Regions from separate parts of the Homo sapiens genome. Here region 1 is linked to region 2. The links come from fine-mapping of genetic effects on gene expression. A gene starts in region 2. The other region holds a variant in brackets. All regions are shown on one strand. Distances are from middle to middle. Region 1 overlaps TEX264 (testis expressed 264, ER-phagy receptor). Region 2 holds the start of TEX264 (testis expressed 264, ER-phagy receptor).

Region 1 (5,364 bases), 31 kb before region 2:
TGCTCACCTGGGCACAGCTTTACCCAAGCAGCCCCATCCATCCGTGGTTACACAGAGCCAAATGCATGAGCGTGGGTGCACATGCACACACACAGGTACACAGCCACTGGCAGGCACAGTGGGGGAGCCTCGCCTACTGGGGAAGTACCAGCGTGCAGGCACACTAGTCACAGACACAAAGGCATCCCTTGGAGGCAGATGAAGACAGGCTGTGAGCTCCCCATTCCTGAGCCCTGAAGGGCACCCCATACTCAGCTCTCACCCAAGCCAGGCTCTGCTTGCTCTCTGGCAGCTGCAATGGAGGGGCAGCTGGCCACTGGGGTCACAGAGCAGGACGTGGAGGATCTCTAACTCCCCTCCTCCCCCAACCCCAGGGTACCTGCCATGTTCCTTCCATTCTTTGTCCTGGGGAGGGGAGGCTCCTTCCCACTCCCAGCCTATCTGTACAGCCATCCCCCCACCGCCCCCAACCAAGGCAGAACAAACAAATACACAACCCAAATCCAGGTGAAACAAGTAAATCATTGGCTTTATTCTGGGTCCTGGAAGCTCCACTGTGAGTCTGAAAAAAAGACACAACAGGGGTGGCAGCCCTGGGGGCTGGTGCAGAAAATAGTCCCTGGCTCCTCTGGCCCTGGGAGCCTAAAGGGCAGTGAGGAGAAGGCTTAGCAAGAGGCCTGGAGCAGGGGAAGTCAGGTCCCTCAGGAACCCCTCCTCCCCCAGAGGAAGGAGGAAGAGGGCTGGAGAGTCTGCTGGAGAGTCTGCTCAGTTCCTCAGCAACTGCACTGCAGGAGGGTGCAGGCCATGGGTTACTCCTTGCCCTTCTCAGGGGCAGTGGGCTCCCAGAGCCACTTGGTAGTCCCCAGGGGCTCAGTCCCAGGGTCCAGCCGTGACTCCCCTAAGGGCCCCTCGCCCTCCAAGTCCAGCTCCTCAAAAGAGGAGCCGCTGGCACCTGACTCGCTGTAGCTGTGCTCGCTGCGGGTGTCACCGTCATCCCAGCCACGGCTGCTCGCCCCAGGTGACAGTGTGGCAGCTGAAGTCTCCCGGCTGCCAGGGCTCACTTCCAAGCTTACAGAACTCGTGTCACTCATTGTGTCAGCTCCTATGACCAGGAAAAGGGAGCACAGGTTAGCTAGGACCACCCCACCCCCTCCTCCAGGGAGAGGCAACTCAGCACGCAGTGCACTCATGAATAATGCAGCCTCCCGGGCTCAGGGGGCTTGCTCCAGCTGCCCTCTGCCCTCTACCCTGACTGGGGCTGCACAGACAGGGCAGAGGGAAAGAGCTGGGAGGAAGGGAGGGAGGGAAGGAGGGAGGGAGGGAGAGAGGGTGGGAGGAGGCAGCTGTGCACTCTTCTCCCCACTCTAAATTAGCCTCAGCTCCCTGCACTTCCACAAAGCCTGCTGCCCTCCCCCCACATTTATTAAGGGCCACTCAGCCCTGAGGTGAGGAGCTGAGGTAGAACAAAGAGACACAAGTAGTGTCCTCTCCACCTTCCCCCACCCCCACTTCAAGCTTGGAAAGAGATGTGTCCAGGGCCAGCTACAGAACATCACCCACAGGGCACGAGGACTGCAGAATGCAGCAGGAGGCCCCTCTGCAGCCCTCCCCCGTGCAGGGCTCCCAGGAGCAGCATCCAGGGAGTCAGCAGGCCCCTGCCTCTGGTACACACCAAGTCCCAGTTGAGGAGGGAGCTGAAGTACGAGGAGGATGGAGAAGGCCTGAGAAATACTCAACCAGCTGCAAGGAGGAGGGTGCTGGGATGAAACATGTTAAGGGTTTTCTCTCCCTATGCCTGGGTCGACCCTGAGAAACCCTTACCCACCCCACCCCCAATGACTGGTGCTTCCTGAGCCACAAGATAGCAAAAGGGGATGATGAGAGCACTCTGCTGGTGGTTGGGGTGCCCCAAACCAGTGCTGAGCCAGGTTGATGGCCCAAACTCCTTCTAACCTGCTCCTTCCACCCCCAATACATCCTCCAAGCAAGCAGCCCCTTCATCTGCCCTGTCCAGGAGCAACCCCTGGGTTCATCTCCCTGGATCAGAGGCACTGAATGCAGGCTGGGGTGGCAAGGAGGAACACATGGCTCAGGCTCGCTGTGTGCAGGAATCCAGACTGGGAGAAAGTGGATCTGCTACCCTTCCTGTATGATGGGGAGAGGGTCAGCTGTCAAACATCACAGAAGGTGAGGGGTTAGCCAGCTTCCCCAGCCACTGTCTCCATGGTGTTGGAGCCAAGCCAGGTGCAGCTGGGGTCTGCTTGGCGCCTGGACTCAGCCTGGGGCTTTCCTTGAGCCTCAAATGGGGCCTAGGTTGGGGGTGGGAGAATTAGGAGAGGGGGGAATTTGGGGTCTCTCCCTACCCCCACCACCCACTCAGCCCCCAGAATATGCCCTCTGGGCGCTACTGGCAGAGGTGAGGTGAGCCCTAGAAGCCCAGGCTGCTGGCCCAGGGCCCTCCTCTTGCTGAGGCCCCAGGTGTGGCTCCCAGGACAGA[A/G]GCCTGTGAATGAGGTGGTCAGGGAGCTGGGGGAGCTTTAAGTTTTGGGTAGTTTCTTCTGACCAGGGGACAGGATGCCAGGCCCTCACTGCTCCTTAAATAATGATCAGTGCCCCAGGGACCGCAGGCCTGAAAAGAGCAAAGGAGGGAGACAGTTTCTCCCTGGCCCTATTAAACTGTATGTTCTGTCTGCCCACCCACCCAATGGCTCTCTTGGGACCCCAGGTATAGGAATGTGCCTGCTTCCCAGCATGCTACCTCCTACCACCCAGCTCCTAGGCTAGGAATGTTCAGAGGAAGGAGCCTAGGGGTGCCTCCTTCAGGCCAGGACAGCCTGCTGAAATGAAGACAGCCCCTGGAGACATATATACACTTCAAGCAAAGGAATTCAGCTGGAGGCCAGGCACGGTGGCTCACGCCTGTAATCCCAGCACTTTGGGAAGCTGAGGCAGGTGGATCACATGAGGTCAGGAGTTCCAGACCAGCCTGGCCAACATGGCAAAACCCCATCTCTACTAAAAATACAAAAATTAGCCGGGCATGGTGGCAGGCACCTGTAATCCCAGCTACTCAGGAAGCTGAGGCAGGAGAATCGCTTGAACCCACGAGGTGGAGGTTGCAGTGAGCCAAGATCATGCCATTTCACTCCAGCCTGGGCAAAAAAGGAAAACTGTCTTTAAAAACAAACAAACAAAAAAAAGGAATCCAGCTGGGCATGGTGGCTCATCCCTAGAATCCCAACACTTTGGGAGGCTGAGGCAGGATCACTTGAGCTAACAAGTTCAAGGCCAGCCTGGGCAATATGGCGAAACACCATCTCTATAAAAAATACAAAAACTAGCCAAGCATGGTGGTACACGCCTCTTGTCACAGCTACTCAGGAGGCTGAGGTGGGAGGACAGCTTAAGCCTGGGAGGGAAAGGTTACAGTGAGCCGAGATCTTGCCACTGCACCACTCCAGCCTGGGCGATAGAGCCAGACCTTGCCGCAGAAGAAAAAAAAAAAAGGAATGCAATACGGGGAAGTAGCATCCCTATACCCCCACCAAGATCTACACAGGAGGAGGTCCCAGAGTCCCATGCCTGCATCCCTGGGCAGAAGATACCAGGCAAGGCAGGGCCCTACCTAAATCCCCACGACTACTGGGGCAGGGGACTTGAAGCCCACCCCCTTCACCCAAATCCCTCCCTCTCGCTCTGCCCACAGCCAGTGCAAGACGATCAAATATTCATCGCCTCTCTGAAGCTAAATAATACATCAATGTAATAACAGGCACAAGGCAGCTAATCACCCCCTTTCACCTCCCGGCCTAAGCTAGGGCCACAGCAGGGAGGCGGGCAGGGACAGGCCAAGCCTTGGGCAGTCAGACATCCTGCATGCACCCACCACCAACTGCTGTGTCAGTGGCATGCACCTGGTGGGCAAACACCGAGTCCCGCTGGGGTGTCAGGACAGGCCCTGTGAGAGGTGGGCAGACCCCTTGGCCCCAACACCAGGGAGTGGGTGGGCGGGCTGGAGGGGAGGAAAACAGGCTGAGGAGCTGGGGAATGTGGGAGCTGCCACTACAGCCAGCTGTAGTGGGTGCCAAGCAGTCCTTCAATGACCCTGACAGGCAGTGTTTGGGAGGGAAGGAAGCTGGGTGGGTGGGTCAAGGAGGGGGAGGCAGGCAGCAGAGGGAGGTCACAGTAAAGTGAAGGCACTCTGTCTTCCTGCCCTGGAGGCTGCCTGGGCCTGCTGACCTTGTGCCATGTCCTGTGCCCACAGTAGGGGCACTGAAGAGTGTCTGCCGGGCACTACCAGGCAGAAGGGAGCTGTACCCCATGGAGGTAATTAAGTGGCAGATGAAGTTAACTGTGTTGGACACAGGCCCCTAGGGAGTAGAGACTGCTCCCAATACCCTCCTACCCAGCCCTAGCTGACACGTCTCCCTAGGGTGACCTTGGCTGTTGAAGACTGGATGGGCAGAGCATCTGCTAAAGAAGGAGGAGAGGAGGGACAGTTCCTCTCCCCACAGCCCTGTACCACTCCTAGAAGTCACAAACTCCACCAGGTTGGCCAAGGATAAGGCCCCCTGGGACCATCTGGGATGTAACCCAGCAGACCCCCTTGTGCCTGAGACAGCCCGGGGTCACAGATCATTGCAGAGGGGTGGGCAGGCAAGCAGCCTTCCAGCCTGGACCTGGGGCCTTGAGGCTGCCAGCAGGAGTGTGGGCTGGCCCTGGAGAAAGGCACAGGTGACTGATCTCCTGGCTCCCCTCTGCATGCTCCCTGGTTGTTCCCTGGCAGGGAGAAAGCAGCTGGCTCTGGGTGGGGCCCGTACTGAGGGACAAGAGAACACTTTGCTCCCCTCCTTACCTTCCAGATCTATGCCAATCTTACTTCCTGCTGAGCCCCACCCAAGGGACTCCTTTCCTGAGCAGCCTCAGCCCCCTCCCATGAACATCGAGCTGTCTGTGATCTTTGTTTCCAAGGGTACTCCTGCTGCATCTGGAGGGAATCCAGGCAGGGTCTTTGTATCTGTGTTGCCAGGAGGTAATGTGTGTGAATCCACATCTATGTAGATCCATGTGTCTGGGAACAGGCAACTCCACATGTGGGTCCTCAGGTAGGTGGGTCTCCTTCCTCCCTCTGCCAAGCATAGCCTGACACCCACAGTGCCAACCCAGAGAGGGAGGAGCCTCCTCAACCAAGCCCCTGGAGTCCAGAAGAGAGGAGCTCCAGGAGGGCCCCATCCTCATACCCCACCTTCTGTACCTGTGCCATCCACCTGGGTGTCAATGGCCTCCACAAGCCCCCGCCATTTCCACTCTGTCTCCTTCATCTCAGGCACATAGAAGTCTCCCTGCCGTGCCAGTGGGCACATGAAA
Region 2 (5,364 bases):
CTGCCTTGGGTGCTCTGACCCAGAAAGGGGAGGGGCCAGAGGTGTTTACACACAGAGTGACCTGGAAGGGAGCTACAAGGATGACTGAAGCCACAAGCCTCTTTATTTCTTAATCGCAGTTGGTGAGGATCTCAGAGCAGCTCAAACTGTCAGCTGGCAGCCCTGGTCACACCTGGGGAAACTGAGTCACAGAGGGGCACAGGAGTGATTCAGCCAGAGACATACTCCGGGCCCTGACAAGTCTCCCCGAAGATGTACCAGATACCAGCCAGCCTGCCTTTCCTCCACATTACCTCTTCCTCCCCACAGCTGAGCCACGCCACCAGCCCAGCCTCCCCAAGCCTCAGGGACGACTGCCAGAGGGAGGACTGGCAAATGCTAGGGTCCAAACACTTACTAACGACAGGGAAACCATAAGGAACAAAAACTTGTGAGGAAAAATGTGCCTCAGGAAGAGAATTTCATAAGAAACTCTCCTTTTCTAAGTACATCTGGCCTGCAGGGACCTTGCTATCCAGCAAGCTTACCCATCCAGAACCAGAGGAAAGACCAGAGCAAAGCGGCCTGAGCAGGCAGAACAAAGTCCAACACTAAGCTTCCCAGACTTGAACCACCAATGTTAACAAGCTTCATCCCAATTTTCCAGCCCACAGAAGAAACAGTGAGTAGTAAGAGGAAAAGGCTGCTAAAAGGGGAGTCGCACAGCAGGAGGAAGTAACAATTATCCCTAAGAGGAAAAGAAGCTGTTCAAGAGCAGTCCCAGGAACATAACACAGAGGCCAGTCTGTGAGCTATTCAAGGCAGGCTGCCTAGTTCTCCAGGCAGCTTGGGGCCAGAGGCCTAACCCTCTTACACAGAGGGCTTGACCTGAGTTGCCTGGCGGGGGGGAAAAATCACAGCCCAGAGAAGACTGTTTAAAGAGGAAGGGAGCCATGTGACCCACTGGGGGGACATTCCCACCCCAATTATTTAAAAGTAATATTTAACATTTAAAAGGTTTTGAAGCTAAAAAGGCCACGCTGCAACTTTGTGGAATACTTAGCTCTGTGGAATTATTTCTTCCCTGTGGGTGCTGGGTGTTGATTTTACGCTAAAAAAAAATTGTCTTTGGAGTCAATGAGCACACAGTATTTGCTCACAAAGAGGCAAAGTAAATTTCTAAACTTTCGGTGTCAAGAAATTGAGGTGTTGCCCACTAGTCTCACCCATCTGTGCTTCTACCCATCAGTATCTCTCTCTTTTCTGCCTGTCCTACTCATCTTGTCTCCAGTAACTTTCATTCCAATTTTCTTTGATAATGATGAGAAATCTTCCACTGAATGCTTACTATACGCCAGGCACTGTCTAAATGTTGAAACACAGCTACTTCATTCACCCTCAAAGCAATCCAAAGAGGTAGGTAAGGCTAAAGGTTCAAGTAGTTAGAGGTTAAGAGACTTGCCCAAGGTAACACAGGTATTAAACAGAGCCACGTGGACCAAAATGCAGGCAACACAAGCCCAGACAGTCTGATTCCAGCCCCTCATTTCCACTTTCTCTCTCCTCTCTGGTGACTGGCTTCCAAAACGCCTGAAGCATTAAATCCTTGTTGGACATCTCTGAGCCCAAAGCTGGAAAACTCTCAGCATCTAGGCCCCCACTTGCCTTGGGAATGACAAGCCCTCACCCTGATCTGCCATCTCAGCTGAACACTTCCTGTCTCCTCAAGGAAACTTAGTATCTACCTTTCTCTTCCTCTCACTTCCCAAACTGCTCAGAAAACGGCGGGGGGGAAGAAAACCCACCTGGGGGTCTCAGAGCCTTGGTCGGCACGTGGAGAGGTAACGTGAATTTCCCCTATATTCAAGAGAAAAGGAAGAAGGTCTGGGAGCTCACCTGAAATGCCAGGCTCACTTTTAGTAACTGCTGGCATCCAGTGCGGCAGGGGCCGAGCGCTCCAGTGCTGGGAGCTGAAAGAACAGTCACCCCTGCCCAGGAAATAACCACTGAGCCAACCATCATGCCCTGATTACCGTCCTCAGGGAAAGCCTACCGGTCCCTCTAAAGCACCCTCGTCCCATTCTCAAACCCCCTGTGGAAATCAGAAGCCAAACCTAGCTTTACAATGTCAGGTCTCTTCGCTAGAGCTCTGGTCACGCCCCTCTTCCTGGAGTACTCCAATCACACTTGGCGCCCAGAAACTGCCGCTGCCGCTGACCTTGGGCAGACTGCGCCCTCCCTCTAGCCTCGGCTCCCCCTCCGCTCAGAGGCCCGGGATGGACGCGTGCGGCCGGTGCCAGCGAGCCTCAGGGAAGGCTGCGCCCAGCCAGCTTCCTGGTGCCGCTCACGTGCGCGGCGGCGGAGGGCCGGGCCCTTAAACGGCCCCCGTCCTGGGCTAAACTTCGGTGCTAGCAGAGGGCGGAAGGACTATGGAGGGTGGGGGGCCGCCGCCTCCCACTTTCGGATTCCAGCCCCTGCTCACCCCGGGCCTTGCCTATTTACTCAGAGCCTTTCTCTTCGCCCACCTCCTCACGGAGCCCCACGCACGTCTGTAACTTAAAGGACGCTAAAGTTTGCAGCCCAGGCTGCGAGGCGCGGCCTTGGGGGACGGGGGCGGAGTTAAAACGCGACTCGCGCCTCTTTCCCTCACCTCCACGGCCCCGGGGCATGCCCTGCACCGGTGGCCGCGGAAGTGGGCTGCCCGGAAGAGTAGGGGCTGCCCCAAGGTCGCATCCAGGCCCTCGGACCTGGCCGAGGCCAGCTGTGGGCAAGACAAGATGCAAAGAGCGGCCCGGGCCGCGGGGGTCACGGAGGGGACACGGAGAGTCCTGAGGTCGCGCCAGGGCGGACAGGGGGAGTCCCAGACCTACGCCCCAGTGGGTATGCCTCTCCTCTGGCCCGGCCCTCACCTCAGCAGCCGCCCGCTGCGGACGCCGATCCGCGCAGGCGGCTCAGGGTTCGGTTACGGAGCCTGCGCGCGCCCGCCGCGCACGCTCGCTCCGCCCCCTCTCGCGGCGGGACATGGCCGTGGCCGTGGGCGCGTGCGCGCGGGACCCGGAGGGCGGAGGCCTGCCCCGCCCCGTCTCCATGGCAACGGGCGTGTGCCTAGCCCCAGCGCTGGCTGCGGCGGAACCCACGGCGTACCTTCCCGCCTCCAACAAACTATCCGGTTGCTGAGGTTGATTTAGCAACACCCCAGGGCATCTGGGTTGGCAGGAGCACCACAGTGACAGCCTGGCCCAGGCTCGGGTACGGGAGGCAGCCCAGTGGCCCGCAGTAGAGGGCCAGGCTGGGGACCAGGGAGCTGGGGCTGAGGAGAATTTGTACAGCCTAGGGAGGCGCAGCACAGCAGTATCAGCCTCTGGCATTTGTACCACCTTTAGTCCTGCCACTTTCTCTCACTGTGGCTTCGCAACAGACTTGGGAACCAAGAAAGGCATAGGTGAGGAAGCTGAAGCCCAGTCTGGGCTCGCGGAAGAAACTGGTGGATCCAACTTCTGCATAGCGCAAATATCTGCTTCCTGCCTCCACCCACCCATTCCCACTTCCGTGAGTATATTCATCCATCCAACACTTATTATTACTCCTTGCCAGGACAGTTCTAGGGGCTGGGGATAGAGTGAACAAAACCAAGGTTCTGCCCTCCTGGAGTTCACGTTCCATGGGAATGCCCTTCTTCCAGGCTCCTCCCTCAGTGCCCAGGTTGTGGCTGTGGGAGGCTGGTCTACCTTTGTGGTTTAGCGGTAACTTACGTGATTCCCACGTCAAGTGTAAGCTCCTTGATGATTGGTTCAATCTTCACCTCAAATTTCTGAGGACCTACAAACTACAAAGCACTCTTCTAGGGGCCCAAAGATAAAACGCTCCCCTCGTGAAAATCCCGGACTTTTGGTGGGAGGTGGGGAAGGTGACAACTATGCTCATAAGCTTGGCTACAAGACCGGCGAGGCCAAGAGCTACTTTGGTATCCTGACAAGGACTGATGTTTGGGAGGGGGATCCAGCAGATGGGAACACCACGAAGGTGGTGGTGGGAAAAGTCAGCAGTCACAGGGTGGTTCACCTTGTGGATCCCACTACTGCACCAGCAAAGAGCAGGCTGGGCACACAGAGACAGTCAAAATCCCAGCTTCCTTTCCCTCTGCTTCACATTCTTCCTTCCGCAGGCAGGGGAGTTTGAACCTTATCCACAGGGCCAAGCCTGTCCCAGCCCTCTAGGCAAACTGGCAGAACAGGCAGCTGGCCCCTCACAGGCACTCCGGGCTGGGCCAGTGCAGGTCGCAGCAGTTGTTTTACCTATGAACATCAAGCACATGGTCAAACCCTCAGCTTAGGTGCCCCAGGCAGGCGGGCTACACACTTGGTAGCATTTCCTTTGACACAAGGAGCAGCCATGGCCCGGGCTCAGAGACTGACAGCCTCTGCCTGCAGGGTCTGCGTGGTCATTTCTCCTGCTTCTCAGAAGGTGGTGAGCTTTTCCCAGGAAACCATTATAAGGAAGTGCCCATTCTTTATCTTGTTCTCTCTGCTCACTTCCCTTAGCCTGATTGGGGAACTCTAGAGCCCCACATCAGAGTTCAACATGTGCCTCAGGAGCTTCAGCACCTCTTTTGTGGGAGGAGAGTCCGCTGGTGACTGGGGCTGCAGGCCATGACATCAGCCTGCCCAGCTTCACCTCAGGCTGCTTCCAACAGTGCCAAGTGAGGTCCCTTGGCAGGATCCCTGCAAGGCAGCGGCTGGCCACCAGGAGGCAGCAGCCTACTCTACAAGGCACTTTCTTCATTCCAACCCCTTGTAACAGGTCTGAGGAAACCTGTTCGCCCAGCCATGTGCTGCAACCATCCTCCACTCCCAATCTTATCTCCCAATAGCACAGATTCCCCTATCATGAGTCCAGACTTGGCCTTCATCTCCTCTTGCCTTCCTCTGTCCAAGGAATCACTACAGAGATTCTTTCTCTATCCTTCTTTGTAAATTTCCAGAAAATTGTTTCCCCAGGGCCCCTCCCCTTGAAGAAATTAAACAGGAAGCTGGAGTAGACTGTCCCTTCTTTCCCCCACCTCTCACACTCCAAAGCTCTGTTTAACTCTGTGGGCCAGTGGCTAGATTCCCCAACATGGATGACAGAGAATACACATGCAATAAGAATGTTTTCGCTGCCACCAGCCACTCACAGACACACTGTCTCCCACCCTCTGAAGGCATTGTGCCCAATCCCCAGCCACTCACTGTCTAGTCAGGGCTGCCCCTGCAGGACTTGCCTTGGCTGAGGACCAGCTAGCTTCAAGCCACTCTGAAGTCAGCTTGCTGTTTCCCCTGGAGCCTGGTAATACATCCTTCTTCAGGTGAACAAAAGCAGAAAAAGCCCAGTGAACCCCACTGCAAC

What was found. PIP is the estimated chance that this variant, and not a neighbour inherited with it, causes the effect.
Region 1: its variant is the best candidate, but not a certain one, in a credible set for the expression of TEX264 in tibial artery (GTEx, PIP 0.65).

Annotation. Positions count from the first base shown.
Region 1 is chr3:51,699,462-51,704,825 of GRCh38, reverse strand. It overlaps TEX264 (testis expressed 264, ER-phagy receptor), which reads right to left. Exons shown (of 5, transcript NM_015926.6): 4 at 5,252-5,364; 5 at 503-1,102. The coding sequence ends at 810. Among named protein-coding and RNA genes, the nearest start is that of GRM2, 4.9 kb to the left of the region's middle. RefSeq lists an enhancer at 18-886. The variant A/G (reference allele first, on the strand shown) is at 2,498.
Region 2 is chr3:51,668,813-51,674,176 of GRCh38, reverse strand. It overlaps TEX264 (testis expressed 264, ER-phagy receptor), which reads right to left and starts at 2,925. Exons shown (of 5, transcript NM_015926.6): 1 at 2,889-2,925. LOC124906237 (a long non-coding RNA gene) reads left to right here and starts at 3,072. Exons shown (of 2, transcript XR_007095907.1): 1 at 3,072-3,528; 2 at 4,521-5,364. RefSeq lists a silencer at 2,760-3,189.